Homo sapiens: one gene and its partner. The protein of the gene in region 1 interacts with the protein of each later gene in a biochemical or structural test. Each region holds a gene or a part of one and is shown in the gene's direction. Other genes may lie near its edges.

Region 1 (2,956 bases):
ACCTGCTCAACCCAGCATATAGCACAGTATTTGCCTATCTCAGCTAGGACCTCAATACTGAATTACTACCCTATTGTGCTTCTTTAGTGATCATTTTCTTCCTTCTATGCAGCACCTATTCCAAATCTTTTCCATCATACATAAACCTTTAACTCTCTTGCCTTCCCCTCACTCTCAGCAGACAGCTCCTCTAGCCTCTTAGAAAAAAAAAAAAATAAATGTTACCAGATGGGAACTCCTTTGACATCGTGCTACCAAACCTAAAAATCTGCTTGCACCCAAATCCATATTTTTCTTCTTTCCTCCTATTACAATGAAAAGGATGCCTTTCCTGCTATTCAAGATTAGTCGTTCTACTTGTGCCATGGATTTCATTCCTGGCTCCTCAGAACCTTGACTGATCAACTTCCCTCTTTCATTTGTATTTAACTACTCCTTTTAGAATTTAAACATGCTCAGGTCTCTTCTTAGGAAGAATATGTGTTTACCTATCCGCCAACTATAATTATGTCTTCAGCTACTGCACTGTCTCCTCCCGCACAGTTAAACTTCTTATAAGAGTACTCTGATCTAATCCAATCTTTCCATTTCTTCAATTCCTACTTCTCAGCCCACTGCAATCTAACTGCCTTCTGAGTCATCCCCTGTAACTAAAGCAAAAACTCTCTTAACGTATATTTAGCCAACATAATGCAAATTGACTGATACTCTCTGTTGCCTTCGTGAAACATATTGGTGGAAGCCAACGGCACACTCTATAGCTAACGTGCTACTGCCTAGTACATACGCGGATTTTTGTTTTTTGGTTTTCTTTTCTATGGATTTTTTGTTTTCTCTATACAGTTATAGGCTTACCAAGAATCAGTTGTGTTTATTTAACCTATTTATGCTGGGTATTCTTATTACTATAATTATGTAATTTAACTGATTATTACGTAAACTCATTATATAACTGTTATATGAAATATAAATAGAAAAAATAAAATAGTTGTTTCTGTGCAAATTAAATTGAATGGTTTGGAAACATTTACAATTTTCCATTCATTGGGGGAGCAAGAAAAGATCGAGGGAAACCATACATATCTAGGATTCTGCGTTCAGATTGCTTCATGAGCACCTTTGAGTTCTTGGTCTATTTTAAATAAACTAAAACAGGGAATGATAGACAATACCTTTATAGATATGATTTATGTGAGAAAACCGAGGCTGAATTCCAATAAACAGATAATACTCAAAGAAAGGTTTACGGCTCCTATCAAAAGATTGGCAAATAAAAGTACAGTGATATGTTTTCAGTTAAAACAGCATGTTAAATAATGTAAATTTTAAAAAATGATTCCCCAATTTAGTCATTTTTTCAAGGAACTGACCATTAACCAATTCCCAAGTGCCACTCACACCGCACCACTCAGACCGCGTAACTTACAGTCTCTAAATCCAATAGATCCTTTTCCATTCCAACTTGACCTCATGGCAGTGTAGCACTGCTGACAAATGTCTTTTTAAATGCTCTCTTTTTGCTTCCCGCTGCAACAAGCGTGGGTCACGCTCTCGCTCGCGCTCTTTCTGCCGCCATCTTGCTTCCGCGTTCCCTGCACAAAATGCCGGGCGAAGCCACAGAAACCGTCCCTGCTACAGAGCAGGAGTTGCCGCAGTCCCAGGCTGAGACAGGGTCTGGAACAGCATCTGATAGTGGTGAATCAGTACCAGGGATTGAAGAACAGGATTCCACCCAGACCACCACACAAAAAGCCTGGCTGGTGGCAGCAGCTGAAATTGATGAAGAACCAGTCGGTAAAGCAAAACAGAGTCGGAGTGAAAAGAGGGCACGGAAGGCTATGTCCAAACTGGGTCTTCTACAGGTTACAGGAGTTACTAGAGTCACTATCTGGAAATCTAAGAATATCCTCTTTGTCATCACAAAACTGGACGTCTACAAGAGCCCTGCTTCGGATGCCTACATAGTTTTTGGGGAAGCCAAGATCCAAGATTTATCTCAGCAAGCACAACTAGCAGCTGCGGAGAAATTCAGAGTTCAAGGTGAAGCTGTCGGAAACATTCAAGAAAACACACAGACTCCAACTGTACAAGAGGAGAGTGAAGAGGAAGAGGTCGATGAAACAGGTGTAGAAGTTAAAGACGTGAAATTGGTCATGTCACAAGCAAATGTGTCGAGAGCAAAGGCAGTCCGAGCTCTGAAGAACAACAGTAATGATATTGTAAATGCGATTATGGAATTAACAGTGTAACCATCTGAAAGCAACTTTTTTTGGTGTCTCAAAGGAGTAACTGCAGCTTGGTTTGAAATTTGTACTGTTTCTATCATAAATAAAGTTATGACTTCTTGCTGGAAAAAGAAAAGAAAAGAAATGCTCTCTTTTTTTGGTCTCCAAGTGCCGTACTCTCCGGATCTACCTTCTTCCCTGGCTTATTCTTCAGTTTCCTTTGTGGTCATCTTTTCTTCTACCCAGTTCTTAAATATTAGTGCATCTCAGGGGTCTTTCCAAGGCCTTGTGTTCTTTTCACTCTGCACACTCAACATAGGTGATCAGATTCATTTCTCTTGCTGATGATCCTCAAATAGTTTCAGTCCCATCTTTGTCCTAAGACACAGATTTGGATATCCAGCCACCTACTTACCGTCTTTCCTTGGATACTCTCCCGGCACCTCAATCACAGGATAGCCAGAAGTATACTCATCATCTCTCCTCTACCGGATGACTAGAGCTCCTTCTCCAGTGTCCCCAGCTCAGTGAAAGTCACCATCATACCCTTCATTCCCAAACCAGCTACTCGATACTCATCCTTAGCTCTTCCCTATCCTTTAAAATCTCTGGCACCCAGTAAATCTTCAAGTCCTATTGCTACTGCCTCCTGAGCATTTCTCAGATTCATGCACCTCTCTGTGTCTCTACTGCCATCATCCTCTCCCAGATTTTCCTAATAACCTACTAAA
Region 2 (3,530 bases), on another chromosome or scaffold:
TCAGTAGTCTTTACTGATGCTTGGCCTTTGAATTGAAAGAAATTTATGTGAATTATGTTTGGAAAAACTAGAGATATAGGTCATCATCATTGAGAATCTTCTAATTATATTGATTAGATCACATTGCTGGGGTGAATGGTTTGAAAATGAGGCTGAATATGTGTACGTGTCTGCTTTTGACTTCCTCCAACCCAGTTTAAAAGTTGAGGGGAAAACCACCCAACCTGTTGTGCCTCCACGGTGTGATTTTGGTTTTTTCACTTAAGTGTATCTGGGGGCACCTTCTGACAGAACTTTACAGGGATAATTGGACTATTGGGTAAAATTTTAGAGTCATATGGGTCATTATTTGCCTGTGCCAAGAAACAAAGACCTTGAGGGAAAGAAAGCAGTTACAGTATATTAAACTGCTCAGCTATTTCTAGTGATTAGTCCTCATTTCTGGGGTTAGGGCTGGGTCTTTACTAGATGTGTACCCGCTAGTTAGTGACTAAGTTAGGGGCTATCAAGCTGACTTCACACAAGCCAGTTGGTTTACATTTAACATTCTTAGGTCTAGCATGAGGCATTCACCTCTAGTCCAGGGCAGGCTGTGGTGAAGTACCTTCTCTTATAATTTCTACTATAAAGCAGTAAAAGTTGTTTCTCATCTTAGGGTCTGGAACAGAATCTGACAGTGATGAATCAGTACCAGAGCTTGAAGAACAGGATTCCACCCAGGCAACCACACAACAAGCCCAGGTGGGTATTCTCTTACTAACTGGTATTGGGTCAAAGAAGCAGGGTTGATCAGGGCAACTTTTGTATTTGGAACTGTGAACCTTCATAAAGGAAAACCCACAAGGAGATTGTGCTATCCAGATCTTAGATTCTGGTTAACTAATAGCTGTTTTATCTTCTTAGCTGGCGGCAGCAGCTGAAATTGATGAAGAACCAGTCAGTAAAGCAAAACAGAGTCGGAGTGAAAAGAAGGCACGGAAGGTAAGATTTGAAAAGGATTTCAGGATCTTATGAAGCACCTTTATACAGAGTGGAACTGTTTATTTCCATAGGTTTTTGGGGAACAGGTGGTATTTTGGTTATACAAGTAAGTTCTCTAGTGGTGATTTTTGAGATTTTGGTGCACCTGTCACCCAAGCAGTATACACTGAACCCAATTCTTAGTAGTGGTAGAATCCCGTTGAAAGTAACAGAAGTAGCTAGGTTGGTGGCTCACACCTGTTATCCCAGCACACTGGAAGGCCAAGGCAGATGGATCACTTGAGGTCAGGAGTTCAAGACCAGCCTGGCCAACATGGCGAAACCCCATCTCTACTAAAAATACCAAAAATATATAGCAGGGCATGGTGGTAACGCTCCTGTAATCCCAGCTACTAAGGTGGCTGAGGCACGGCAATTGCTTGAACCTGGGAGACGGACATTACATTGAGCCGAGATTGCACCACTGCACTCCAGCCTGGGCGACAGAGCAAGACCTGCCTCCAAAAAATAAAAAATAAAGTAACAGAAGTTACTACGGCAGAAAACCCATTCTCTATTCTTGTATGAACTTTTCTCAGCCTGGGGAAAGGCTTTGCTTTGGATGTTGTATTATGTTCCTTGCTTCTTTAGGCTGCTTCTAAAGAGGTTGAAAACCTGATACTATTTTCTCTTCTTTAGGCTATGTCCAAACTGGGTCTTCGGCAGGTTACAGGAGTTACTAGAGTCACTATCCGGAAATCTAAGAATATCCTCTTTGTCATCACAAAACCAGATGTCTACAAGAGCCCTGCTTCAGATACTTACATAGTTTTTGGGGAAGCCAAGGTGAGTAAACTTTTCTTGGGCATTGTTCCAGACCAGGGTTTCTCAACCTCAGCACTGCTGACATTTTGCGTCAGATAGTTCTCTGTTATGGAAGGGCTATCCATTACATCCAGTTTTGATTACCCAAAAACTCCATTGCCATATATCTCCTGGGAGACCTAACTACCCCCTAGTTGAGAACCACTGCTCTAAACCTAAACAACTACTCTTTCTACTGTGAGGGCAAGCAGTTTAAAGCTGTACAATAAGTTACCTGAATGGGTTTACAGAGAGTTGTGAAACTATATGATTTATTTTTCAAAGACTGCTAATCTACTCACATGGATCTGTATTTTCTACCCTGTAGATCGAAGATTTATCCCAGCAAGCACAACTAGCAGCTGCTGAGAAATTCAAAGTTCAAGGTGAAGCTGTCTCAAACATTCAAGAAAACACACAGACTCCAACTGTACAAGAGGAGAGTGAAGAGGAAGAGGTATACTAGGAAATCTTTCATAATTTAACTCTCGCCGTATAGCATTGTGTTCGTGTTGGTGAGCTATATTAAAAACTAGATTCAGGAGACTCCAAAGAACTGCTGAAATTGTTCTTGCCTTTAATTTACTGCTTTTTCCCTCTCATCTCTCAGGTCGATGAAACAGGTGTAGAAGTTAAGGACATTGAATTGGTCATGTCACAAGCAAATGTGTCGAGAGCAAAGGCAGTCCGAGCCCTGAAGAACAACAGTAATGATATTGTAAATGCGATTATGGTAAGTGTTCAAGCCTTTGTTCCTTGACTCCCTCTGCCCTGACCAATTATGAGTGACTTTATTTTGTCTTGCTAAATATCAGCCAATTAAGGAACCTCATTCCAGAGCCTCTTCTGAGTTGCCGTATAGGTTTTAGTGGCCTAAATTCTCCTGATTTGCCTGTAAGAGTTTTAGTGACCTGAATTCTCCTGATTTGCCTATAAGAACCGCTAATTATCTTTTCTCTGTTACAGGAATTAACAATGTAACCATATGGAAGCAACTTTTTTTGGTGTCTCAAAGGAGTAACTGCAGCTTGGTTTGAAATTTGTACTGTTTCTATCATAAATAAAGTTATGGCTTCTTGTTGGATGAATTCAGTCGGTGACTGGTCTCTTCCCCGCCACCCCCCCACACCAAAAAAAAAAAAAACTTAAAAAGGTTCTAGTAATTTATTAATTACTCCTAAGGCCTCCCTCATTTGATAAGGTTTAGTGCCACAGATTTCCCACTTAGAATCTCAGACTTTATACCTCTTTTAAGAAGTTACTGGCCAGGCGTGGTGGCTCACGCCTGTAATCCTGGCACTTTGGGAGGCCAAGGAGGGGGCAGATCACGAGGTCAGGAGATTGAGACCATCCTGGCTAACACGTTGAAACCCCGTCTCCACTAAAAATACAAAAAATTAGCCGGGCGTGGTGGCGGGCACCTGTAGTCCCAGCTGCTTGGGAGGCTGAGGCAGGAGAATGGTGTGAACCTGGGAGGCAGAGCTTGCAGTGAGCCCAGATCACGCCACTGCACTCCAGCCTGGGCGACAGACAGAGCAAGACTCCATCTCAAAAAAAAAAAAAAAAAAAAAAAAGTTACTATACTAGGCTGTTAGGACCTTCTTAACTTAAGGAAATACAACTTGACTATAAAGTTTCTCATTTCTGACCAGGCGCGACGGCTCACACCTGTAATCCCAACACTTTGGGAGGCCAAGGCAGGTGGA

What was found. The genes of interacting proteins can lie anywhere in the genome.
Region 2: the proteins of NACA2 (region 1) and NACA are reported together in a solved structure, tested with the Homo sapiens proteins (one study listed by BioGRID).

What each region holds. Positions count from the first base shown.
Region 1 is NC_000017.11:61,589,826-61,592,781, reverse strand, and holds NACA2 (nascent polypeptide-associated complex subunit alpha-2), read left to right. Parts: upstream 1-1,562; 5' UTR 1,563-1,601; coding exon 1,602-2,249; 3' UTR 2,250-2,361; downstream 2,362-2,956. UniProt on the Homo sapiens protein: Prevents inappropriate targeting of non-secretory polypeptides to the endoplasmic reticulum (ER).
Region 2 is NC_000012.12:56,711,813-56,715,342, reverse strand, and holds the end of NACA (nascent polypeptide-associated complex subunit alpha), read left to right. Parts: intron 1-655; coding exon 656-741; intron 742-903; coding exon 904-981; intron 982-1,659; coding exon 1,660-1,806; intron 1,807-2,152; coding exon 2,153-2,281; intron 2,282-2,434; coding exon 2,435-2,557; coding exon of another isoform or gene 2,558-2,584; exon of another isoform or gene 2,585-2,790; coding exon 2,791-2,805; 3' UTR 2,806-2,916; downstream 2,917-3,530. UniProt on the Homo sapiens protein: Cardiac- and muscle-specific transcription factor. May act to regulate the expression of genes involved in the development of myotubes.